Homo sapiens: one gene and its partners. The protein of the gene in region 7 purifies or fractionates together with the protein of the main gene of each other region. This does not show direct contact. Each region holds a gene or a part of one and is shown on either strand. Other genes may lie near its edges.

Region 1 (3,500 bases), on a different chromosome or scaffold from region 7:
TGGCAATCTAGGCACTTCTGGTTCTAAGATCATGACTACATAGGGCAGCAAGTCTGGACCAGGAGGAGGTCCTGTTGCTAAGAGGTCCTGTTACTGAGGCAAAGTAGATTTGTCCTGGGCAAATCTCCCCACTGCTGTGCAAGTGGGCTTTAGTTCAGGATACAGCCTTTAACAAATATTTGTTGACATCTACCACGTGTCCAAACACCTGGGGACACAGTGGTTAGCTGCTAGCCATGGTCTTTGCCCTCCAGGAGCTTATTATCTCGTAGGGGAGACAGACAGGAAATAATTACTCCAATAAATGTATAAATATAAACTGGAGTAAACCTGCTGAAGGACAACTATAGAGCGTATAACGTGGATCTGACCTGGTTTGTGGGAGGCTGATTTGTGAGAACTGACCTTGTTTGTGGGAGTGGTGGTCAGGGAAGGCTTCTCTGAAGAAGTGACATCTTTCTATGAACCAGGTGAAGCCAAAAGTGCCTGTTGGACAAAGTAGCATGTGTGAAGGATGATATTTGTTGTCAGCTTTGTGATAGTCACATGCTAAATGTTTTCATGTTTAATATCTTGTTTTTCTCTCCTTTTTATTAAATTAGAACCCAAGTTCAATAAAGTACAAACATCTTTTTTTTTTTTTTTGAGATGGAGTCCTGCTCTGTGACCCAGGCTGGCGGATCTCGGCTCACTGCAGCCTGTGCCTCTCAGGTTTAAGCAATTCTCCTGCCTCGGCCTCCCCAGTAGCTGGGATTCCAGGCGTGCACCACCACGCACAGCTAATTTTTGTATTTTTAGTAGACGTGGGGTTTCACCATGTTGGCCGGGCTGTTATTGAACTTCTGACTTCAGGTGATCTGCCTATCTCAGCCTCCCAAAGTGTTGGGATTACAGGCATGAGCCACTGCGCCTGGCCTAAATAAAGTACAAAGATCTTAAGGGTATAACTTGGTACTTTTTTATCATTGTATATGCCCATATAATTATTTATTATCTCATTCTCACAGATAATAACCTTGTGGGGTATTATCATTATACCCATTTTACAGATGAGGAAACTGAGGCACAGAAAAGTTGTGGGTTTTTTGTTGTCGTTGTTGTTTTTGAGACAGAGTCTTACTCTATTGCCCAAGCTGGAGTGCAGTGGTGCAATTACAGCTCACTGCAGCTTCAACCTCCTGGGCTCAGGTGATCCTCCTGCCTCAGCCTCCTAAGTCGCTGGGACTACAGGTGTGTACCACCATACTCGGCTAGTTTTTTGTATTTTTTGTAGAGATGGGGTTTTGCCATATTGCTCAGGCTGGTCTCAAACTCCCGAGTTCAAGTGATCCACACACCTTGGCCTCCCAAAATGCTGGGATTACAGGCGTGAGCCACCACACCAGAAAAGTTGTGATTTGCCTCAGGTTGCATACATCAGGTGAAGAGCAGAGACAGGATTCCAGACCAGATCCTGACTCTAGCCCAGTGCATTTTCTTCTACTGGATGAGTGGTTTGGAGAACTACTTTACCTGTCTGCCTTCACAAGCCTTTTAAGATGGGGTGATAAAAGTTTGGATGTGCTGTCTCCTCAGGGAGAGTGTATTGCTTTCATCATTTTCTCATGGAGTCCCAGGGCCAAAAAGATGAAGAACAATTCCTAATAAAGGGCTCTTCTCTCCCTGTTCCTTTCTCTTGAGAATTGCTGGGAATTCTAAGAATGCTCTTCTTCAGATAGACCTTCCCCACCAAGCCCTTTGTCACCTGTAGCTCTGCCTCTCCCATCCCTTCCCCTCCCTTCTCATCTCACCCTGGCTTGCTAGCACTTTACAGTCCCTGAAAGGGGCCTTGCCAAGTTTCCTTGGCCCAGAACTCCATGGGGAGGTTGAGTTGGGTATGTTTGTGTTTCTGTCTGGCACGTTAGAGGCTCATCCTCCAGTTTGGTGCTAGGCTCTGGTGGAGACTAGCAGAAGGGGTGGGGAAGCTGAATTTTTTTATTTGCTTGGAAGACAATCTCTCCCCCAAGTTCCTGGAGCCAGAGCATACCTGGAATACATTCCATTTGCTGACTCTGAGCTTTAGCAATGTGGACCTGGGAAGCTGGCCTATGGATGGTGTTGGCTCTGGCTCTCAGCTGAGACAAGTTTACCTGACCTGGGGCCCCTTAAAGTGGCACTTTTTTTTTTTTTTTTTGAGATAGAGTTTCACTCTTGTTGCCCAGGCTGGAGTGCAATGGCGTGATCTTGGGTCACTGTAACCTCCGTCTCCCAGGTTCAAGCGATTCTCCTGCCTCAGCCTCCCGAGCAGCTGGGATTACAGGCCCCCGCTACCACGCCCGGCTGATTTTGTATTTTTAGTAGAGACAGGGTTTCACCATGTTGGTCAGGCTGGTCTCAAACTCCTGACCTCAGGTGATCCACACGCCTTGGCCTCTGAAAATGCTGGGATTACAGGCGTGAGCCACCATGCCCGGCCGAGTGGCACAGTTTTTAAACCACATTTAAATATTTTTGGCTGGGTGCGTGGCTCATGCCTGTAATCCCAGCACTTTGGGAGGCTGAGGCGGGCAGATCACCTGAGGTCAGGAGTTTGAGACCAGCCTGGCCAATATGGTGAAACCCCATCTCTACTAAAAACAAAAATTAGCCGGGCATGGTGGCAGGTGCCTGTAATCCCAGCTACTCGGGAGGCTGAGGCAGGAGAATTGCTTAAACTCGGGAGGCAGAGGTTGCAGTGAACCAAGATCACGCCATTGCACTTCAGCCTGGGCAACAAGAGCAAAACTCTGTCTCAAAAAAAACACAACCTTTTCTTGAATAGATAATACATCTACGTGGTTCCAAATTCAAAAGGGACATAAGAGATATACAGTAGAATGTCCACTCCTTTCTGCTCTTCCAGAGAATAGAAACTCTCCCATCCCTGTTCCTAGTCCTCAGTTCCTCCACCTCAAAGGCATCACTGCTATCAGTGTTTTTAAGTTTCTTTCCAGAAGTGGGATGATATACTTTGAGGTCTTCTATATTTTAAATGAGCTCTGGGAGAGAAGGCCCCCTTTTCTCCAGTGAGATGGAGGTATCTGCTCAGCAGGGTGTGGGTTCTGCCTTCCCTTGGTGGGAGGAAGGGAAGAAGGCACACAGTGTTTTTTTTTTTTTTTTTTGGAGATAGAGTTTTGCTTTTGTCACCCAAGCTGGAGTGCAGTGGCGCAATCTCGGCTCACTGCAACCTCCACCTCCCGGGTTCAAGCAATTCTTCTGCTTCAGCCTCCTGAGTAGCTGGGATTACAGGCATGCGCCACCACGCCTAGCTAAGTTTTTGTATTATTAGTAGAGACAAGGTTTCACCGTGTTGGTCAGGCTGGTCTTGAACTCCTGACCTCAGGTGATCCACCTGCCTCAGCCTCCCAAAGTGCTGGGATTATAGGCATGAGCCACTGTACCTGGCCACATGGTGGTATTATATGTATGTATGAAGATCAAGTAAAATCTTTTTTTTTTTTTTTGAGACAGGGTCTCACTCT
Region 2 (3,500 bases), on a different chromosome or scaffold from region 7:
ACTGTTTCACTCTTGTCGCCCAGGCTGGAGTGCAATGGCGCAATCTCAGTTCACTGTAACCTCTGCCTCCTGGGTTCAAGTGATTCTCCTACCTCAGCCTCCCGAGTAGCTGGGATTACAGGCACGCACCACCATACCCAGCTAATTTTTGTATTTTTAGTAGAGATGAGGTTTCACCACATTGGCCAAGCTTGTCTTAAACTTCTGACCTCAGGTGATCTGCCCACCTCGGCCTCCCAAAGTGCTGGGATTACAAGCATGAGTCACCATGCCCAGCCCAGTATACAACTTTAGAGAAGTCACTTTACCCCTCTGAGCCCAAATTCCCGCACTAAAAAAATGCAATAATTATGGGACAAACCAGAGAATGTTCGTGAAATACTCTGTAAATGATAAAACATTAACTCAAAATATTTCTCATTTCAGAAAATTGAAAAGCAAATGTTTTGACAGCCATTTAAAAACAACAGGCAAATACAACCATATTCCTCCGTGTTTTTCCCTCTGCCAATATTTACTTAAGATACCTGCCAGTTTGCTGAGATGATGCTGTCTTACACTGAGCAAAGAGATTCAAACCTGTGCTGTCCTCTGAAGATAGAAAACAAGAGCAGGTACCTCACTGAATTGCCAAATATTCCACATATTGAGGCTGAAAAGCCAACAAGCAGTCTTCCTACAGCCCTCTGTCACCTCAGACTTAACGGGGGGGGTAAACTGGCATCTCCCTGCCCCTGCACACGTTTCTGTTTAAAGTGCTGTCTTAATTTTTTTCCAAAGTTCTCAATTTAGGAAGCACCAAATTTACTCCCATAGACATCAAAAGAGAATGGAGGCTGGGCCCGGTGGCCCACGCCTGTAATCCCAGCACTTCCAGGAGGCCAAGGTGGGCAGATTACTTGAGGTCAGGAGTTTGAGACCAGCCTGGCCAACATGGTGAAACCCCGTCTCTACTAAAGATACAAAAATTAGCCAGGCGTGGTGGTGGGTGTCTGTAATCCCAGCTACCCAGGAGGCTGAGGCAAGAGAATTGCTTGAACCCAGGAGGCAGAGGTTGCAGTGAGCTGAGATCATGCCACTGCAGTCTAGCCTAGGTGACAGAGCAAAACTCTGTCTCAAAACAAAAAAAGAAAGAGAGAGAGAGAGAATGGAGAGGGTGCCATCAAGGCACAAGAAACCTACACCCACCCTCATCACATGAAAACACCTCTTCCCAACCCAGCATCTGTCCTATCTCTAAAACACACTCCTCTCATGGGTAAAGAGCCTTAAAAAGCAACTTGCAACCATTTTTCTTAAAGACGTTTCCTTAAAGAAGTTTCTTTTTGGAGATGTGGTATAAATCATGGCTCCTAATCCTTCCTTTCGCTTTCTAAACAACACTCACTGTTTTTCCTTTCCCACAGAACCTAACGTTTAAATCCATGAACCAGTTTTTACCCTTGAAAATGCAACCAGGAAGTGAAATATAAAGCATGGGATTCTGCCAAAACTTGCCAAGCTGGGAAAACCTTTCTTAACCTTCAATGAGGGGGTTCAGAATTTCTATTTTAGTATATATGTAAGCTGCTAGTTTCCCAGAAATTCTTTGTGGGACTATTACCCCCAGGTTTGAAATAAAGTTTCTGGGACTGCTGTTCCCAGCAACATCTCAATAAGAAGGATGACAAATAAGGCTGGGCATGGTGGCTCATGCCTGTAATCCCAGCACTTTAGGAAGCCAAGGCGGGTGGACAGCCTGAGGTCAGGAGTTCAAGACCAGCCTGACCAACATGTGAAACCCCGTCTCTACTAAATTACCCGGGCATGGTGGTGGGCGCCTGTAACACCAGCTACAAGGGAAGCGGAGGTTGCAGTGAGCCGAGATCACACCACTGCACTCCAGCCTGGGCAACAAGAATGAAACTCCATCTAAAAAAAAAAAAAAAACGTCCAGGCACGGTGGCTCACACCTGTAATCCTAGCACTCTGGGAGGCCAAGGCAGGCGGATTGCCTGAGGTTAGGAGTTCAAGGCCAGCTTGGCTAACATGGTGAAACCCCATCTGTACTAAAAATACAAAAAAATAGCCAGGCATGGTGGCGCATGCCTGTAGTCCCAGCTACTCAGGAGGCTGAGGTGGAAGAATCGCTTGAACCCGGGAAGCAGAGGTGCAGTGAGCCGAGATGCCGCCACTGCACTCCAGCCTGGGTGACACAGCAAGACTCAGTCTCAAAAAAAAAAAAAAAGGAAGATGATATATAAGTGAATCAATAGGTTTGACATTCTACAAGATAAATTTCACTGCCATGAAGTTCAACATTTATCTAGGGAGGAAAATATAGAAGACAGGACAGACTCCTTCCTAGGGGTGGCCCAGAAGACTGTCGGTTGGGTGAGGTCATAATTAAGGGCAGCCTCCTGGGCTGTCCAGTATTCACTGGCTTTCCTAAGGGCCTTCTAGGCCTGGTGTCTACAAAATCCCCAACTGAACATCTGTCACATTTGGTTCATCCTTCACTCTCCAACTCCCTTTGATTTCAGACTAAAAAATGGGTTGCTGAATACAAAACACACACCCTTGATACTTGGCATTATCTCCAGAGGTAACCTTCTGAAGGACTCATGCCTGGTCCCCACTCCCTGCCTCGGAGGACCAGGTTCTTAACTGCCCACTCCCAGCCTCCTGGAGCCCTAAGCCCTGCCTGGGCTCCCTGCTCCTCCCTGCTGCCCAGGGGGGCATGGATACAGGTGCTTGTGCTCTATGGTGTCTTGGAGTGGGGCATGGTGGTGGCAACTCCTAGCATATGAGGTAAATGCACTGATATTCACATTTAAAACATTATATTCTACAATATAGAAATAACTATAAAATTTATGCTAATAATTTAAACTTAATTTTTCTTTATGTAGAATTACATTAAATAGAAAAAAAAATTTTTTTTTTGAGACAGAGTTTTACTCTTGTTGCCTAGGCTGGAGTGCAATGGTGCAATCTTGGCTCACCGCAACCTTCACCTCCTGGGTTCAAGCGTTCCTCCTGGCTCAGCCTCCCAAGTAGCTGGGATTACAGGCACTCGCCACCATGCCCATAAATAGCAATTTTATTTTTTTTTAAATGACAAGTCAAGGGAAAAACTACAGAAGAACAAAATTTTACATTTTAGGATCTCTAAAGATGCTTTTTTTTTTTTTTTTTGAGACAGAGTCTCATTCTGTCGCCCAGGCTGGAGTGCAGTGGCGTGAGCTCAGTTCACGGCAACCTCCGCTTCCCAAGCTCAAGTGATCCTCCCACCTCAGCCTCCCTAATAGCTGGGACTATGGCCATGCACCATCACACCCGGCTAAGTTTTGTATTTTTTGTAAAGATAGGGTTTTACCATGTTGCCCAGGCTAGTCTCAAATTCCTGAGCCCAAGCAATCCTCCTGCTTTGGCCATTCAAAGTGCTGGGATTACTGGGTGTGAACCACCACGCCCGGCCTAAAGATATTCAGTTGGTGCAAAAGTAATTGCAGTTTTTA
Region 3 (4,293 bases), on a different chromosome or scaffold from region 7:
TGCCCACCTCTGCAGCAGGGGAAAGAAGTCCTCTCACCCCAGTTTGAGGGGAGAGGGGAGGTCCAGTGTGGGGACCAACACGAAGGTCACAGCAGACAGTGGAGTCATGCCTGAGAGCCAAGGAGAGTCCCTACCAGGTCACCTGTCTCCCAGTAGCACCACTTACCTGGGGTCGAAGGGCCCCAGAAAGTTTCCATGGTTCCTGGCTTCAGTAAGGGGCTGAAGTCCAAACAAGGAAAGATGACTCAGAACCGGGGGGCCTCCTGGGCTCTTAAGTCCAAATCATGAAGAGTTCAGCCTCTGAAGTCCATGGGCTGGGGAGGCGAGCACGGCCTGCTGCTGTTCCCTGATCCTCCTCCTCCCAGTCTCAGTCTGGAAAAGCCCCGCACCACCTTTGCTGAGAACAAGGCCACACCATGACAGGATGGCCTGCCAGGAGCCCCAAAACCCTATGTTGGGGTGAGGGGAAGGAGAAGCAACAAGACTGGCCTCAGACATGATGCAGGTGAGAAATGGTCTGGTTTTATTGAGAAGCTGTTGGTCATTTGATGGAAAGACACATACGGTACAAAATTACAGGTGGTTTAGTTCATTACATGATACAAATCATTAGAGTCTTTACAAGTCATTAGAGTCTTTGGATTTTTTAAACTCCCATTTACTGTGTACCAAATCAATATAATCACAGAATCAAAGTCACTTCTTTATATGTGAACTCTTCGCATTTACACGAATCCACACATAGAGAAGCTGTTCCAAGACCCCCCAACACCATTAGTGTCTGCAGCCCACCAGGAAGGCACCACGGACTTTGTGGAGAGAAAGATGCTTTGGGGGTTCAATGGGTCAGTATCTTGGGCAGGAAGCACAGGGTGACTCCCGTCTTGTGTGCGTGCGCACAGCCACCAACACACACTCTCAGGACTTCCCGTTTCACATACAGGGAACTTTTAAGGCAAGAGGAGAAAATGCTAGGAAGTAACGGGGGATCAGAACTCCTCCACCTCTCAGGCTCCAGCAGTCACATTCCCAGCTCCGTTCTCTTGTTGAACCTTGGTAGGCCCAGAAACATCTTCCCCCTCCTCACCTCTGCCCTCCCGCTCCCTCTGGTCAGGCCTGGGTACCCAGGAACCCAGTCACACACCTGCCCCCTGTCCCCTCTGCTGCTGGACGCAGTGCCCGGGGCAGAAGTGAGCCTTCTCACCCTGGAGCCTCAGTCCTTCATAAGGGCCCGAGGGAAGTGGCGGGGTGGGGCCAGGGATGTTCTGGGCACACAATGGGGAGGCAGGGCCCCCAGAAGCATCCCCCACCCCCATCTCTGACAGCGCCGCGTGTGCAGTTACTGCCCTTCCCGGCCTTGGGTGCCATCTGCGGGCCGACCCACACTAAGGTGCCACTCCTGGGGCCTTCCAGGAGCGCATCGGGAGTCCTAAGGCGGGTGGGCGGGCAGGCGTTCTTGGGAGGTGAGTCTGCTGGTCAGGGAGGCAAGAAAAGAAGATAGAAGACGGAGGCCAGCCCGCCCTGGCCCACCACTCTGGAGACCGCACCTCCTGCCTGCCAAGTGCTGGCCCGGGGTCAGCGGGGCTCACTGCCTTGGTGACCACGTCACTGCACATCCCTCTTTCCCAGCCACAAGCTGACATTAGTCCGCACCGAGAAGCAAGAGTGAACAGGGCCTGGGCCCAAATCCACCTGCTCAAGTCAGGAACTCTGGCTCGTTCTACTCCACTGTAAGTCAAACCGATGGTAAAAAGCACGACACACACGTCCCCCAGGACTTTCCCAAGATGGTGCTACAGGAGGCCGCTGCTGGGTGGATGGCTCAGCCACCACGAAGTGCCAGGTCCCACCCACGCTGCCCGTCCGCCACCATTCCCAGAGCGTCCCCACTACACGGCCCAGGCGTTTCCCCTCAGGGCAGCAGCAGTGCTGGCCTCTCACCCAGGCCATAGTGACACCAGCGGACCCAAAAACAAACTTCTCAGTGAAACAGGTTTTAAAAAGAAAGCCGCTGTGCTGGGAAGCGGGTTGAGTTAAAGGGCAAGGCAGAGGTGACAGCTCTTCATCCAGGGACAGGTGCCACAGGGTTCCCTCAAAATCGGCTAAGGACAGGGAGAGCCCTGGAGGAGTGCCTCCCCCCAGGGGCCGGGCCCTCTGCCAGCCCGGCCGCAGCCTTCGTGTCCCTCGCCAACTGGGGAGAGAAAGACAACCTGTCCTCGCAGCCAGGGCTGGGACAGGCCCACCATGGAGACTACTCTGTTGGCGCCTTCAAGTCCCTAGAGAACCAGAGCCTTCCGCAGCGCTTTCTAGATGTTGACTAAATGTGAGAACTAGAAACCAGCTCCAAGGGTGGCTGTGTGAATCTTGACCCAGGACTCCTGTCCCTAGATTGGTGGCCTTCCACACATAGACGCTAACCCCCATCCCACAAACCTGGCACCAAAGGCTCTGGGAGCATAAGTGCCCCAGCCAGGAGGTGGAGGCCACCCCGGAAGCTTCCGGCTGTCCCGCCCACACCATGCACGGTGGGCCTGGGGGCGTGGCTGCTGTGAGGGTCTGGAGACTAACCAGCACACTCCCTGCACCAGCCCAGCCGCCAGGCCCCAGCCCCACACTCTGAGAGTCTGGGAGTTGCCGAGAAGTTAAAATGACCCAAAGACCTTCCTAGAAACCAAAAGTGCACCAAATAAAGTAGCAATGCCTCTTCCTTTGTCACCGACTACAGAAGCACATCATTCTCCCAGGTTTTTGCTCTCATCCAAGTTAAGAGTAAGGCCACTGTGGATCCGCAATAGAGGGATGTGAGGAGGGGGCTTTATCCTCTGCCGTCCCCAGGACCCTCCACCTGGGCAGGAGGCCAGCAGCTCTGCAATGGCCAGAGAGGCTGCAACGTGCAAGGCAGGCCCTGGGCCCCCCCACACAGGCAGACGACGATTGCGGCTCGCAAATGATTTCGGATTTTGAAAAAATAAATATAAATAAATACATTCCAAGCCTTCTGTGAAGGGAATAAACGGCAAACATAAGAGACTTTCCAGGTGTCTAAAGATGCCAAAACATCCACAGAGAAACCGCTAAGAAACCCTGGCAGAGGAGGGATGGGGGGGCTCAGGCCCTCGGCCCCCGTCTGGGGCACCAGGACCATCTGCCAGAGCCCAGGGCCCTCCAGAGGCACTTGTGGAACCTGGGACCAGGGTGGGAGGCTGGGGGGTCCCCCAGAGGCACTTTGCGGGAAACTGGGACCAGGGTGGGAGGCTGGGGGGCTTGCGGAGTGAGCCAGGACATCCTGGGTGGGTGGGGGGGCTTGCCCTCCAGTGGGGAGGAAAGGCACTGGTTACAATTATGGTTTAGGTTAAGACATTAGTGGGGCCACCAGAATGGAAATGATAGAAAGAGCAACATAAGGCCCCAGGCACAGGCACACAGCAAGATCACCAGGCGCTGCACCACCCAGGGTCTCAGTCCTAGCATCCCCCAGCCCCTGCGGGCACCCAGAACCTTCCATCCACCTGAGGAGGCACAGTTGAGGCCCCCACTTTACCCGGGTACAGAAGAAACAAAGCTTCCAGAGGCCCAGGGAGGTCACCAGCCCTGTGTCGTGCAAAAAGCATTCATCGCCCTGCCCCTGGGGAAGGGGCCACCGGGCTCCTGGCTCCTCAGGGCTGTCACTGGCAGGGCTCAAAAGGGGCCGGGCACCCCCAGAAAAGTTCGCCCTAAGGCAGCGGCTCAGCTGGCCCAGGATTTCCGGTTCTCAGGGTTCTTGTGGCTCCTGTCGGCCTTGGCCAGGGCAGCTGTCAGCGAGGCCAGGTTGGTGGCGGAGCCCGAGAGGGTGGCGCTCCGGCGGGCCTCGGGGGCACCCAGCCGGAGTCCTGTGCTGCGCCGCCGCACAGGGCCCGTGGCCCTGCGGACCCGGCTGGGCCTGACCAGCAGCCCGTAGCCAGGGTTACACCTGAAGTACTGCTTCCCGCCGATGGAACCGTCATTCTTACCTGCGGGGGAAGGAGAGGGTGATATGGAGGGCAGCCGAGCTGCAGACGGCCCCCTGCACCTCCCTTACCTCTGCAGAGGCCATGTGCCCACACTGCCACCCCCCCGCACAGGCCCTACACAGCCAGCACTCGGACACTGGCCATTGTCTGGCAGGGACTGGCTAAATGAATGTGGCCAGGGCCTGGGGTGACCGCCTCCCAGGACAGTGAGCAGTGGTGACCAAGGATGCACAGCCCCAGTCCTGCAGCCTCAGGTAGGAGGTGACAGGCCCTGGGGGCCCTGGGGAGTGCCTTGTGGAAGCAT
Region 4 (3,500 bases), on a different chromosome or scaffold from region 7:
GTCAGACCTCATAATTCTTAGGCCTCATAAAGTTTACACTTCCTAATTAAATTTGGCATGTTAATAAAACCCAGAGGAGTGTAGGGCGGAGTGCTGCTGTGGAGCTTGGCCAACCTAACAGTGCTCCTCGATTTTTTGTGTCCCTGTACACGTGTGACAGGAAATGGGGAATGTTTTAGGAAGCCCAGGCACACTGGGCTGTCTAGTCCTGAAGCAGTATCACCTTAATGCTTAAAGGTGATTCCATAAATTAGCCATACGTGGTGGCGCTTGCCTGTATTCCCAGCTACTCAGGAGGCTGAGGCAGGAGAATCGCTTGAATCCAGGAGGCAGAGGTTGCAGTGAGCCAAGATTGTGCCAGTGCACTCCAGCCTGGGCAACAGAGCAAAACTCTGTCTCCAAAAAAAAAAAGAAGCAATTCTATATTGGCTGAGTGTACCTCTGGGTTTTCTTTATAGACAAGGATTGAGTGGCTATTCATTTTCTGCCACTCAATCCTTAACATTTTGCCAAAAGTTACATTTCATCAAAGCCTATTCTCAGAAGCCCCATAGATCATTTGTGGTGTGAACTTGGCCCTGTAGCTCCCTGGAATGGGTTCTCACCAGCCTGGCTCGGCGCCACTGCCTCCTCAGGGGCCCATTGATTCCTCCAGTGAAAGGGTTGGCATTTGAGAAAGTGCTTTGTGAACCGCTCAACACCGCGTAGACCCTGTTGCGCTTTAATACTTTGATCCAGCCATATTTTGCCAGTGTCTTCTGTGGGCCAGGCAGCCATTTTGGCAAGAGGGCTGCAGAAAGGACACAGGTGAGTCAAGGTGCGTGCAGGACTGGGGTACCAGCTTCTAGCAAATGTGTATTCAACCCCTGTGTGTTCAGTCACTGGAGGTAATAGCAGTGGATGAGACTTGTCAGTTCCCTGCCCCAGGGAGCTTACGTTTGAGAGGGCGAAAGTCCAGTGCTGGGGCTGGATGGATGGAATTAGCATCCCCACCCTGGGTTCAGAGAGGCCCAGCCAGGCCTGGGCCTCAAGTCTTCCCCAGCAGGCACTTGAACAAACTCCTGGTGGCAAAGGCTGGGTCTGGCTGTTTCTCATCTACATGGGCCATTATGATCTGCAAGCATTATGCCCAGGTCCATGCAGCAGATACATACATGTATGTCAGTTATGTTAATAAATAGGTAAAGGGAGAACTGATGAGGATGGTCAGAAAGGTTCCCCTGAGGAGGGAACTTGAATGGGAACCTGAACAAAGGGATAGCCAGGTAGCTACAGAAGAAAGAACTTTCCAGGGCAGGGAAGAGCAAACATCAAAGCCCCGAGTCAGGAGCATGCTTGGAATGTTGAGGAAATCGCTGTGTGGATGGTGTGGCCAGAGAGAGCAGGTCATGAGCCAGAGTGCTGAGAGGTGACCAGGTTAGGCAGGACCTTGACACACATGAGCAGCTGTTTCCACTTTATTCGAGGGAAGTGGGGCAGGGAAGCCACTGAAAGAGGCTTTAAAAAAAAATAGCTTTATGAGATAGAATTCGCATACAGTTCACCCATTTGCAGTGTACAATTCAGTGGCTTTGGGTACATTCACAGAGTTCCACAACCATCACCACAGGCAATTTGGGAACATTTTTATTATGCCAAAAAGACACCAACCCAAGGCCAGGCACGCACGGTGGCACAGTGGCTCACGCCTGTAATCCCAGTACTTTGGGAGGCTGAGGTGGGCAGATCACGAGGTCAAGAGATCGAGAACAGCCTGGCCAACATGGTGAAACCCTGTCTCTACTAAAAATAGAAAAATTAGCTGGGCATGGTGGCGCGTGCCGGCAGTCCCAGCTACTTGGGAGGCTGTGGCAGGAGAATCACTTGAACCCGGGAGGCAGAGGTTGCAGTGAGCCAAGATTGCACCACTGCACTCCAGGCTAGCCAAGATCGCACCACTGCACTCCAGGCTAGCCAAGATCGCACCACTGCACTCCAGCCTGGTGACAGAGAAACTCCATCTCAAAAAAAAAAAAAAAAAGGATACCAACCCTTCCAGTTTCCCCATGTGCCCCCCCAGCCCCAGACAACTGCTAATCAGCTTTCTGTTTCTATGAATGAGCCTATGCTGGACATGTCTGTTAATGGAATCTCACACTAAGTGACCTTTAGTGTCTGGCTTCTCTCAGCATCCTGTCTTCAAGGTTCATCCACATTGTATAGCATGGATGAGTACTCCGTTCCTTTTTATGACTGGGTCATATTCTGTTGTATGGTTGGACCACATTTTGTTCATCCATTCATCTGTTGGTGGACATACTAGAAAGTTTGGAGCAGAGGGCCGGGTGCGGTGGCTGATGCCTATAATCCCAGCACTTTGGGAGGCTGAGGCAGGCAGATCATTTGAGGTCAGGAGTTTGAGACCAGCCTGGCCAACACGGTGAAACCCCATCTCTACTAAAAACTCAAAAATTGGCCGGGCATTGTGGCAGGCACCTGTGGTCCCAGCTACTCGGGAGGCTGAGGCAGGAGAATCACTTGAACCTGGGAGACAGAGGCTGCAGTGAGCCAAGATTGTGCCACTGCACTCCAGCCTGGGCGACAGAGCGAGACTCCATCTCAAAAAAAAAAAAAGAAAGTAAGTTTGGAGCAGAGGTTAGCTGTGTAACATGGTTAGGGTTATATTTTTGAAGGCTGGGGAGGGGACTGCGGGTGAACAGTGGGAGCCTGGGGAACATCAAGGTGGCTGCGAGGTCACCGTGGGGAAAGGGGATGAAAGCGGGAGGTGAGAGACAAGGAAGATGGGGTCAGGAAGGCTTGTTAGGAGGTGATCTTCAAGGGGGCCTTAAAGGAGGAGAAGTGTGCCTAGCTGACGGGCCAGTGGGACACAGACCACCCGCAGAAAATGAATAGCATGTACAAAAGCTGGGGGCAGGAGAGAACGTGACCATGTGCATTGACGCATGGTGGGGCCTAAGGCCCTGTGTGCCTGGGGGTTGGTCAGCTGCAGGGTGTTGGGGAGCAAGGGACTCAGGCCTGCAGAGGGCTCTGTTGAGACCCACTCCGTACAACTGCCTGGGGTGGGGAGGCGGGTTCAGCTGGCAGCAAGGGACAAGAGCAGGGCTTTGCCACCCGCGCCCCCTGGGTTTGCTCTGCACTGCTCCCATCAGCTCTTGGAGAGGGAAAATATCTCCAAGTGTTTCCAGATCTGGATATTCCGACATCCTGCATGCCCAGCACCAGGCAGGGTCTCCGTAAGCCACAACAGCTGTCACCTGCACAGGTTGGTGGCGCCCAGCTCAGACACAACTTGGGAAATGGGCTGACAGTGACGTGCCTTTTTTCTTTTTTCTTTCAGGAATTGACTTTAAAATTAGGACCATAGAGCTCGATGGCAAGAGAATTAAACTGCAGATATGGTAAGAGTCATTGTTCTCTGTCATTCTCTCCACCTGGCAATGGCTTCAAGCCAGAAGCCCTTGGCCTTCTCCCTCCACCGTCCCTGTGACCTTGGCCTCCAT
Region 5 (3,500 bases), on a different chromosome or scaffold from region 7:
AAGACAAATTAGTAAGCTTATTGTAACAGCTCCAATGTATTATAAAGAAGAACGTAGTAAAAAGAATTTTCTTCTAATAGTAGCTCCATCTCAACAAGATTGATTTTATTATGTGTTTCCTGGCATAAATAACATAAATTAGTAATAATTTTATAAATATTGTTTCAGGATTCTAGATTAATGCTACAAGATTTTAGACCCAACACAGAGAAACTACACTTATATTAAGTCCATAAAAGTAACTCTATATGACAGAACCTTTAGGGAACTGTGGCTAGTCATTAAGGCATACATTCACATATGGCATTGATTTTCCTTCAGTGATGATGGATCTGCATTCCTCCAAATATTCTTGGTTAACCTTGCAACCCTGCATTTATTTCTGAGATGGCTAAGCAGTGGAGCAACCTTGGGCCATGAACCCAACTGGCCCACAGGGGTTACCTGTTACTTTACCCTTAATAGCACCACCAACCAACTTGGCTAGTAAGTCAAAGGCTAATATACTAAAAGGTAAATATTATGACCATACTTATTCTGGTGACCTCAGCATGTAAAACAGGGATAAACGTAAAGATTTCATTCAATTATGGACTTGTAAAGTCTTAAAGAACCTCAGAATTTTGTAACAGGTACTCAGAAATAGTCTTGTCTAAGAATAAAAATGACCAACAACTTGTCAAAGGTCCAAGACCAGTATGGTAAATCAGTGCTCCTGAGGGCTTGAAGTTTATAAGGAATAATGGAATTATTTGTACACAAAATTACAAGGCATGAATGTAATCTTCCTCATTGTATAAAACATGTCATTATTTCCTCACATTGGCTAACCAAGTACAAAGCAATCCTCTACTTCAGAGTCACAAAGTTCACAAAAGTAGTATCATTTTTTGTTCTATAATTATCTTTGTTCTCCTGCACATAAGTTTCATTCAGGAACAGCCCCTTCACAGAATGAGCATATGGATTGCCAACTGGTGTTCTCGCAGGCACACATGCTCCCTCAGGATGCTGTTTGCTAGTCCCATACTCTTTCCACTGAATGTCAACAGATTTACCACTACCTTTAGTGATTAGGCTGTTGAGCAAATTTACCTTCCTTATATCAAAAGGCTAAAATTTTATACCATCTCTAAATTGTTCTTAATCATAAACAAACAAGGTGTAGCCCAAATCACTAAAGCAAGAACTACAAAGACTTAAAACAATGCCAAAACTCCCCAATATCCAAAATTTTAACTTACCAAAAATTTTTTGCTTGGAACTGATGGCTTTCTATGCATGCAATAATGGTTTGCTGTCCATCTATTTTTTTGCCATACACCTTATTGGCAAAGAAAATAAGCATAAGAATGAATTTAGGGCCATGGAATGTCCAACTTTAAAAATCTATAAAATACTGCAAATTGTACAGTACTTTGACAAGAACACATAAAATACAAAGTAGGCCATCATTCCAATATAGTAGCTAGAAAAACATGTTCTCAAATATTTATGCGTAATCAAATTATTAGTGGACCACAAAAGGGGACACTAAATAAAATACAATTCATTAAAATTAATTGTACTCTGAAATATTCACGAACATTCTAGATAATCTACTTTCATAAGTAGATAATTTATTTTAAACATACAGATGCTAATCTAGCTTTTTCCATGCAAGTGAAAACTGGACCTAGCTTGTGATTATCACCTTTGTTCACTTCACAATCTTAGGGGCTGCTGTTTCTTTAGTCACTTAAAAGTACTGGAATAAATTAACTTACTTATAAGTGAGAAAGGTCGTTAAGAGAATGCCTGTGATGTATCACAATGCTATTTCACCTCTTGCCTACTGCTTTAAAAATAATAATTAATTTGTGCCTTTCAATCCTCTAGAATAAATGAGGACTCTCTAACAAGTACTCCCTTAACTCTCGTTATTCCTCCAAAATAATCCTGATGAACAAGTTATAATTCAAGTAATACATAAGATATTTGAGGTTATGTTGCAATATTTCTCAAATAATCAGAGAGCTAGATACTTAAGCAGACCATATGAATTTTTGTCCTAACCAGGAAACTTCCAAGAAAGAAATGGGGTACGCTACTGGTGATATTAATAATTACATTGAGAAAGCAGGTATAAACTAGGATATATGGTAGAGTTAGGTTGGAGGGGTAAGCAGAGGCCACGTGGTCACAGGGCCTTTAAGCCACCTTCAAAAGCCTGGACTCTTAAGTCCAGGCAACGGGAAATCTCTGAAGGATTTCAAGCAGGGAATTTTAATGACCTGATTTGCATTTCAAAAGATCACTCTGGCAATGGAAAAGGCCACTGAAGCACAAACTGGGGGTGCTAAAAAAGCCTGTCAGGGTACAAATAATATTATGAAATTTTTAAAAAAGAAATGTATTCCTACTACCATATTTTGTATTTCTTTTTTTTCTTTTCTTTTTTTTTTTTTTGAGACAGAGTCTCACTCTGTTGACTGGGCTGGAGTGGAGTGGCGCAATCTCGGCTCACTGCAACCTCTGCCTCCTGGGTTCAAGCAATTCTGCCTCAGCCTCCCGAGTAGCTGGGACTACAGGCACGTGCTACCACGCCCGGCTAATTGTTTTTTTTTTTTTTTTTTTTAAGTAGAGACAGGGTTTCACCATGCTGGCCAGGCAGGTCTCGAACTCCTGATCTCAGGTGATCCACCTGCCTCGGCCTCCCAAAGTGCTGGGATTACAGGCGTGAGCCACTGTGCCCAGCCATATATTTCTTGAAAATATAAAAATAGGTTGAACCTACGAAAGAACCACACAAAAAACACAAGAAATGTAACTGTAAAATACAGAAACACATAATTTTACTTCCAAGTAATTTTATTTGTTCTAAGATTTCTGTGACTTAATAAAAATAACTTTGATCTAAACTGAGACGAGTCATGAACATAAGATTACAGAATCTCACCATATCCTGCTCCTTTAATCAATGTATTAGAATTTCTACATGGATTTAAATCAAGGTACAACCATTTCTCTATTTTAAGCCATCCTAGTATATCTATTTATTATCCAGAATTTCTTGAAAAAATAGTAAACATTCTTAGAAATATTTAAGGAAAAAAATGACAAATTATACAATGTCAATTCTGTAAGTTACTGTAAATTTTAAGAGACGCTAAAGACTCACATTTACACAAAACACACACACAAAGCTGCTACTGATGACTTACAGTGCAGACTCCATTCGGGTAATGTTCTTTTACGTAAGCTCTCAGAGCAGTTTCTACTGAAGTTCTCCATGATTCAACTGCATTTTCTACTTCACAGGGTCTTGGATCAGTTGCCTCCTTCCTTAAGTGATCAAATTTAAAACAGATTCTGTTCTTTGGATCCAAAAACTTTCCATTTCCCAAGTCGCCATGTTCTGTTATCAATACCTTTGATGATGGAATGAATTTAGAAAAAAAATAAAAAAACAGCATTTCAATATTGATACATCATAATTACACTCATTTAAGCTTCTTCCT
Region 6 (3,500 bases), on a different chromosome or scaffold from region 7:
ACCTACACCAGAATACAGCAACTCAAAAGCAGGCAATTCAACATGAGGTAACTGTAGCTGAGCCCCAGAGCAGCTGTACACACAAGAGGAAAATATGGTACGTGATCTAAGAAGTTACGTCTCACTTTTGAATTGACCTTCCACACAGTCGAAAAGATTAGACCTACCCCCACAGGATGCCACAGAGGGTTTCCCAAGCCAAAGTACAAGCAAAAGTCTAGGCAAAACACAGCTTGCCTCTAATGAGTGACACGGACTGTAGAAGCAGCTGAATCCCAGGAATGACCCATGAGCTCCTCTTGGGTTTACACTGCAAGAGAGCTGAGTCACTCAACATGCCCTGAGATAAATGGGTGCAGCGATAAGAAGGATCAACATCCCAGCTCTTCTTTGAAACACATCAAGAAACACATGAAAATTCAAGGGTTACCCAGCCAGAGCTGTTCTGCTGCTCAGGTGGACCTAGCAGGCTTGAGTCAAACTCCAAAGATCTGCTTTTCGTCAAAAGACAAATAACAAGTATAAAAAACTGAGAACCAGATGCACTGAAGTTTATAGCAGAGCCCAGGGGAACATACAGAGAGAAGAGAAGGCCAAGTACCAAAACACTCACATTTAACAGCTGGTATGGAAGCCAGAAAAGGAGGAAGAACTAAGCTTGCCAGAGTGTCATGGAAGCCAAAGCAAAAACGAGTTATGAGACAATCCTGTGGTCAGTATTGCCAAATAGTCCCATGAGGCCCTGCAGGTAAGGACAGAGAAAAGACTATTGGATTTAGCAGCCAGGGAGAGGTTGAGCAGTAGGACCCAGCGGGCAGAGGATACAGGGTAGAGACTAAGGAAATGGAGGCCATGGCTGGTGACCACGCACTTGAGAAAACCTGGCAGTAAACAAGAGAAAAGAAATGAGTAAGAGGGAGCATCTGGCAAACATGTGTTCAAGGCAGAGGCCTGTGTTTACAGCACAATGTAGGAGCTGGAGAGGAGAGGAAATAAAGATGCATGAGAGAGAATAATGACAGGCTCTCTCCACTTTCTGAATGATGTCAGACTCCTAAGGTTGGGACACCTTGTTCTCAAAGAGAAGACATTTGACTTAGGGGATAGGTTGGAAAAGTACTTCTATTATGGATCAGGCAGTGACATGCAAAGAAACTGAAATCCAAATAGGTGAAGTAATGTACCCAAGGTCACCAGAGAGCCTGTGTCCCTCAACATCAAAATGGCCTGCCTTGAAAGCCCACCCTTTCCACCATGCCATCAACTCCACTCCCACTGGAAACAGGGACTGTTTCAATCACCCCACGCCCACCTTGTTCTCTAATCAAAACAAGAAAAGATATCAACACTGAATTACCCAAGTCACTATTATACTGAATTTTCACATTTGCAAAACCGTTTACAAGAATCCAGAGTTTATTTGTTTGTTTGCTCATTTATTTATTTATTTTGAGACAGGGTCTCACTCTGTTGCCCAGTCCGGAGTATAGAGGCGTGATCACAGCTCACTGTAAACTCAACCTCCTGGGCTCAAGCGATCCTCCTGCCTCAGCCTCTGAAAGCGCTGGGATTACAAGCATGGGCTACCACGTCTTGCCCAGAGTTTTAAAAATATATAAAAACAGGCCAAAGCCACCCAGCTTATCCATTTTCCAGGACTGCCTCACTCTACTTAACTATGCATCAAGCACTTACGATTCTCTGGGCATCCTGCACTTGACTAAGGACCATGAGGGTATAGAAGAGACAGTCATGTCTCCTGTCCTCAAGGAACTTGTGCTGAGCAAATCTCTACTGCTCTATGTCTTACATTCCCCATAGATAAAATGGCCCATCTTCTCCCATGTGCCTCATGAATAACCTATACAATTTGATTCAAGGAAAAATCAAGATCCCTTAGCACTTCATTTAGAAAGGCCAGGGTGCATCCACTGAGCAGGGAAAAAGAGAAATAGGCTCAAGGTTGATCCAGAGACAGTGGGTCTCATTATTTCCTTTCCATCCTGATTCCACAGGGGCAGAAAACAAGGGCAGCACTCCCTCACTCATAAGATCACTCATTTGGACAATTCAGATGCCCTGCAACCATAGGCCTCAATCCTACCAAATGCCCAGCTAAGGCTTAAGGCTATTTACCCCAAGAGAGTCACCAGACAGCGTAGAGCCATGTCAGGCTGAGGCCGGCAGTTTTAGCTGCAGACAGGCACATGTGCCCTCATCAATATTTGAACAGCCATATGCAACTGGAAAAATTGCTTCTTTGAAAAATGGCATTTAGCTTGCCACCTGCTGTCGATCCCAAACAGAACAAATCATTCTTGTCCTGCATGGTAAGCATGATTACAGGCTCAGCTAGCTACCTCCAGCCCTGGTATTCTACTCTGACGCCAAGAGTCCAGATAATACAGTTAATTCTACATCTCCTAGTTAGTGAGTCAAGACATAGCCATAATCTCCTCCTGGCTCCCACCCCTCCCTAGCCTTTCCCTGCACTTTCAAGAGGCTATTTCTACATCTATAGTCTTCTTTCACTGGGCATTGGTAGCACAGCTAAATAATATTCTTAGAACTTTGCTGGGCCGGACGTGATAGCTCATGCCTGTAATCCTAGCACTGTGGGAGGCCGAGGCAGAGGATCCCTTGAGCCCAGGGGTTCAAGACCAGCCTAGGCAACATAAGGAGACCCTGTCTCTATTTAAAAACAAAAAACAAAAGAACTCTGCGAGTGGCACAGTACTTGGGTTTACTGTTTTGCGCCCAGGGCAAATTACTGTGAATTTTAAATTTTCTAGTTGCTAGCCCATGTTCATGAGAAAAGAAACATACCTTTTGACTAAGGAAAGAATTGTTAACTCAGACTATTTTACTAATGATCCCAATGGTCATGCTGGTTGAGTCTCCATCCCCATATGATTAATCTAAGCTGATAATATAAATCCCATTCTCCTTTCCAGCCATTGGCTTAAGAATGGTCATATGACCGAATCCTTACCAATAAAGCTTTAAGAAAAATCAGCTAGTGGGCTAGTAAGAAAAGTTTCTTCCATTCTAAAAAAGGGACACAAGAAAGAGACAACTTCTCTTCTTCCTCTGGATGTTGTCATTTTGAATGTAACCCCTGTAACTCCTATGTCCATCACACATCCAACCTGAGGATGAAAGCTGCACATGGGCAGAACCAAGGTCCATTGAGGAACTGCTGAATCAGCCAACAAGGAGCTCTATTTCTTTTTTTTTCTTTTCTTTCTTTTTTTTTTTTTTTTTTTGAGACAGAATCTCACTCTGTCACCAAGGCTGGAGTGCAGTGGCATGATCTTGGCTCACTGCAACCTCCACCCCCCAGGTTCAAGGGATTCTCCTGCCTCAGCCTCCCGAGTAGCTGGGATTACAGGCGCCCGCCACCACGCCCAGCTAATTTTTGTATTTTTAGTAGAGACAGGGTTTCACCATCTCGGCCAGGCTGCTCTTGAACTCCTGACCTTGTGATCCACCTGCCTTGG
Region 7 (3,500 bases):
GGCTGGTCTCAAACTCCTGACCTCAGGGTGATCCACCTGTCTCGGCCTCCCAAAGTGCTGGGATTACAGGCGTGAGCCACCATACCCGGCCAAAAAAAAATTTTTTAAGCTAAAATATTTCATTTTATTTTTTCAATGGCCTTTTTTTTTTTTTTTTTTTTGAGACAGAGTCTCGCTCTGTCACCCAGGCTGGAATGCAGTAGCACGATCTCGGCTTCCTGTAACCTCTGCCTCCCGGGTTTGAGCGATTCTCCTGCCTCAGCCTCTCGAGTAGCTGGGATTAGAGGTGTGCACCACCATGCCCGGCTAATTTTCAATGGCTTTTAAAGTACACGTGGCTTTTAAAGTGCTCCTTCATCCTCATCCAGTAGTTATCCTCAAAAAGCGTAGGCGCTGGAAGGAAAACCCCTGTGCTCTAACCCTGTTTCTGTCTCGAATCATGTGGCTGAGCAACTGCTTTTCCCCTCACTAAGCCTTGGTTTGCTCATCAGTAAAATGGGGATAAGCCAGGGGCTCTGGTGTGAAGGGCCTGGCAAGGTGCCTGGCGCACTGTGTGTGCTGAACCCACGGTAGCCCCCTCCCTGGTTTCGGGGGTAACACGCGGCCCTGGCCACTCACCGGAAGCAGTGGCGATGGTACAGCCTGCCGTCAGCCAGGTAGCGCTGCACCAAGTGCACATGCTGCTGGCAGGCTGCGCACGTGCTGCTGGGGGTCTGGCCGGTGCCCTGCTCTGACAGGCTGCCTGAGGAGAGCTCCTCGCCCTGCAGAGAACGAGGTGGGGGAGGTTGGGAGCAGGACATGGTCACCAGCCATCCTGTTCACATCACTGCCCTCTCCCTCCCTCCAACGGCCACCGTCACTCAAGTGTGCACCAGGCTTCGTGGTGGAAATGGACTTCATCAGGGCCCCAGGAGGGGCAGAGGGCAGGAGGCTGCCACTGTCTCCCAGGTGAGGAAGCCAAAGCCCAGAACGGAGGAAAGCCTTGTTCAAGGTCACTGAGCCAGTGCGGAAACACGAAAATCCTGACTTCCGGTTTCTGAGGCTTCCCTCCCCAAAGGAAGGCAGCTCCTGGCTGTGCAGCCCCTTCCCCTTGGCGGCTCCTGCCCCCTCCTCCTCCCCTTTGCGGGGGAGCCCCCCTGACAGGTTCCTGTCCTCCCAGGCCGACCTCAGCTGCCTTTTCTGTTCTCTCCTAGAACTGCCACGGATTTAAATCCCAGTTTCTCTACATCCAAGCACAGTGAACCTGAGCAAGCTGCTCAAGTGTGGGCTTGGGTCCCACCTGCAGAATGAAACTGTATAACCCCTGCCAGCCTCAGCCCCATGTACCCTCATGGAGCACCCACCCTGGGGCTAGCTCCCTCCAGCAAAGAGCAGATGGGAGCAGGAGGGGAAGGCCCTTTACACACTGTAAGGTGCCGTCCAGATGTGAAGGGCTGGTGTCACTTCCTCTAAGCCCTTCAAACAGGTGACTGGCAGTTGGCCCCCACTTCCTTACTAAGTAACCTTGGACAAATGACTAAACCTCACTGAGCCTCAGTTTCCTCATCTGTATACCAGGGCCCATAATGCTGACCTCCCTGGGTTGTTGAGAGGATTAAAGGAAATCAAGCCGGGAAGTTTACAGCTGTCTCCACAGGAATCAAGGGGAATCTTTGCTTTACTACGTGTGTAACTCCTGACAGTCCCATGATGGTGAAGTCAGCATTGTGGACTGCCCTCTCTCCCCTTGCCAGAGCTGGCATCTCCTGACCCCACCTGAGTCCTGGAGAAGGAGGTAGGGCTCCCTGCCCATAGAACGGGACTGGCCTCCTGACCCATGCCTCACTGCCCCAGTCAGGGACACCTGTTCCCAAAGCCAATAGGGCAGGGACAGAGAACAAGCACCCTCTGAACACTGTCAGGGCTAACTTCCTCACATGACCCAGTCACTGCAATGATAGTCGTCCACATAACTCGCCCCCTCCACCCCTGGCCCTCCCACCTCTCCAGGTATCTGCCTACCTGAGCCACATCTTCTGGTTCCACTGGAGTGGGTGCTACAGACGGCGGGGAACAGGGTGCAAGGCCCTTTCTGGGTGGCGAGACACCAGCTGCCAAGAGATGAGAAAGGGGTCCTGAAGCAGGTGGAGATCCTGGAGTCCCAGGAGGTCCCAACCTGGCTGAAGATTTGAGACCTGTAGCCATCACCTAAAGGCAGACCACCTAATGCAGTGGGACAGGAGCTGGCTCCCGCTTCACACGGGCCCGGGGACGCTTCCAGTTTTAAGCCAAGTGCTGAGGGCAAGCCATGAACCTCACTGAACCTCCATCAAATGGGGAGAGTGACTCCTACTGCACAGAGCCAATCCGAACAATGGCGCAACAGTACGATCACAGAACACAGCACCCGCGTGTGGCTACACCAGCAGCTTCCCTGCCACCAGGGTAGAGGAGGTGAAGGAAAGGAAAAGAAAGGAACCATATGGTGCTGCCCTGACAGCTCAGGAAAGGCGCTGCCTCCTTGGGGTTGACAAGGAGCTGTCCTGCCTATCCCCAAGTGGGTATTGGGGGCCAGAACCCGGCCTGCACACCCCCTCACCAGAACAAACCCACCCACCCTGGGTTCCTCTAAGACTCAGCTCCTCAGGCCGGGCACAGTGGCTCACGTCTATAATCCCAGCACTTTGGGAGGCTGAGGTGGGTGGATCATTTGAGGTCAGGAGTTCAAGACCAGCCTGGCCAACATAGTGAAACACCATCTCTACTAAAAATACAAAAATCAGCTGGACATGGTGGTGCGCGCCTATAATCACAGCCACTCAGCCACTCGGAAGGCTAAGGCAGGAGAATCGCTCGAACCTGGGAGGTGGAGGTTACAGTGAGTTGAGATCGCGCCACTGCACTCCAGCCTGGGCAACCGAGCAAGACTCTGTCTCAAAAAAAGAAATAAATTCAATAACACTATGGTTGGTGCCAGGAGTGGCTCCAGCTGACTGGGGAGAGGCCCTTAGAAGCCACATGAAGAAGCTGGACTTCATCCTGACATTACTCCCCAACCCCTTTCTGATTTCCCACAGCCACTCGGCTTCCTTCACTCCTGCCCTGGCTCCCTGAGCAGGCTGCAGCTCCTCCAGGGTGGGGGTCTGTCTGTTGTGCCCGGGGTCACTGGCACCCACTGAGCGTGGTGGCACAGCTGAACACTCAGCACAGCACCACGACATCTCAGCCAGGGGCAGGCTCCAAACTTACCCAGTCTGGTAAAAAGTCAAGGCTAGTCAAAGTCACTCTTGAAATGCCTCCACTCGCCCAGAAAGTACAGTACAGGACCATCTGGGGGAGTCGAACAGCCAGCTTTGCCTCCAGAGTTGGAACACATCACTGTTTCCTTTGCTTAAGCAGCAGATGGGATAAAAATGGTTTGCATTTAGGGGCCAAGTTGTATGAAAGGCACAAACTGTACCTTTTCTTTTTTATTACAAAAGGCAGATTTATTAGAGAAGGTATGAAAATACATTGCGAGG

What was found.
Region 1: the proteins of MICALL1 (region 7) and CGN purify together in Homo sapiens (affinity purification with mass spectrometry, with the first as the bait; one large-scale study listed by BioGRID). This does not show direct contact.
Region 2: the proteins of MICALL1 (region 7) and PLEKHA7 purify together in Homo sapiens (co-immunoprecipitation; one large-scale study listed by IntAct). This does not show direct contact.
Region 3: the proteins of MICALL1 (region 7) and KIF13B purify together in Homo sapiens (affinity purification with mass spectrometry, with the first as the bait; one large-scale study listed by BioGRID). This does not show direct contact.
Region 4: the proteins of MICALL1 (region 7) and RAB8A purify together in Homo sapiens (co-immunoprecipitation; 2 studies listed by IntAct). This does not show direct contact.
Region 5: the proteins of MICALL1 (region 7) and CAPZA2 purify together in Homo sapiens (affinity purification with mass spectrometry; one large-scale study listed by BioGRID and IntAct). This does not show direct contact.
Region 6: the proteins of MICALL1 (region 7) and CREB3L2 purify together in Homo sapiens (co-immunoprecipitation; one large-scale study listed by IntAct). This does not show direct contact.

What each region holds. Positions count from the first base shown.
Region 1 is NC_000001.11:151,514,387-151,517,886, forward strand, and holds part of CGN (cingulin), read left to right. Parts: intron 1-3,500. UniProt on the Homo sapiens protein: Probably plays a role in the formation and regulation of the tight junction (TJ) paracellular permeability barrier.
Region 2 is NC_000011.10:17,004,415-17,007,914, forward strand, and holds part of PLEKHA7 (pleckstrin homology domain-containing family A member 7), read right to left. Parts: intron 1-3,500. UniProt on the Homo sapiens protein: Required for zonula adherens biogenesis and maintenance. Acts via its interaction with CAMSAP3, which anchors microtubules at their minus-ends to zonula adherens, leading to the recruitment of KIFC3 kinesin to the junctional site.
Region 3 is NC_000008.11:29,066,778-29,071,070, forward strand, and holds the end of KIF13B (kinesin-like protein KIF13B), read right to left. Parts: intron 3,990-4,293; coding exon 3,727-3,989; 3' UTR 501-3,726; downstream 1-500. UniProt on the Homo sapiens protein: Involved in reorganization of the cortical cytoskeleton. Regulates axon formation by promoting the formation of extra axons. May be functionally important for the intracellular trafficking of MAGUKs and associated protein complexes.
Region 4 is NC_000019.10:16,114,889-16,118,388, forward strand, and holds part of RAB8A (ras-related protein Rab-8A), read left to right. Parts: intron 1-3,337; coding exon 3,338-3,398; intron 3,399-3,500. UniProt on the Homo sapiens protein: The small GTPases Rab are key regulators of intracellular membrane trafficking, from the formation of transport vesicles to their fusion with membranes.
Region 5 is NC_000007.14:116,904,087-116,907,586, reverse strand, and holds part of CAPZA2 (F-actin-capping protein subunit alpha-2), read right to left. Parts: intron 3,411-3,500; coding exon 3,204-3,410; intron 1,325-3,203; coding exon 1,245-1,324; intron 1-1,244. UniProt on the Homo sapiens protein: F-actin-capping proteins bind in a Ca(2+)-independent manner to the fast growing ends of actin filaments (barbed end) thereby blocking the exchange of subunits at these ends.
Region 6 is NC_000007.14:137,992,087-137,995,586, forward strand, and holds part of CREB3L2 (cyclic AMP-responsive element-binding protein 3-like protein 2), read right to left. Parts: intron 1-3,500. UniProt on the Homo sapiens protein: Transcription factor involved in unfolded protein response (UPR).
Region 7 is NC_000022.11:37,916,297-37,919,796, reverse strand, and holds part of MICALL1 (MICAL-like protein 1), read right to left. Parts: intron 2,091-3,500; coding exon 2,002-2,090; intron 762-2,001; coding exon 619-761; intron 1-618. UniProt on the Homo sapiens protein: Lipid-binding protein with higher affinity for phosphatidic acid, a lipid enriched in recycling endosome membranes. On endosome membranes, acts as a downstream effector of Rab proteins recruiting cytosolic proteins to regulate membrane tubulation.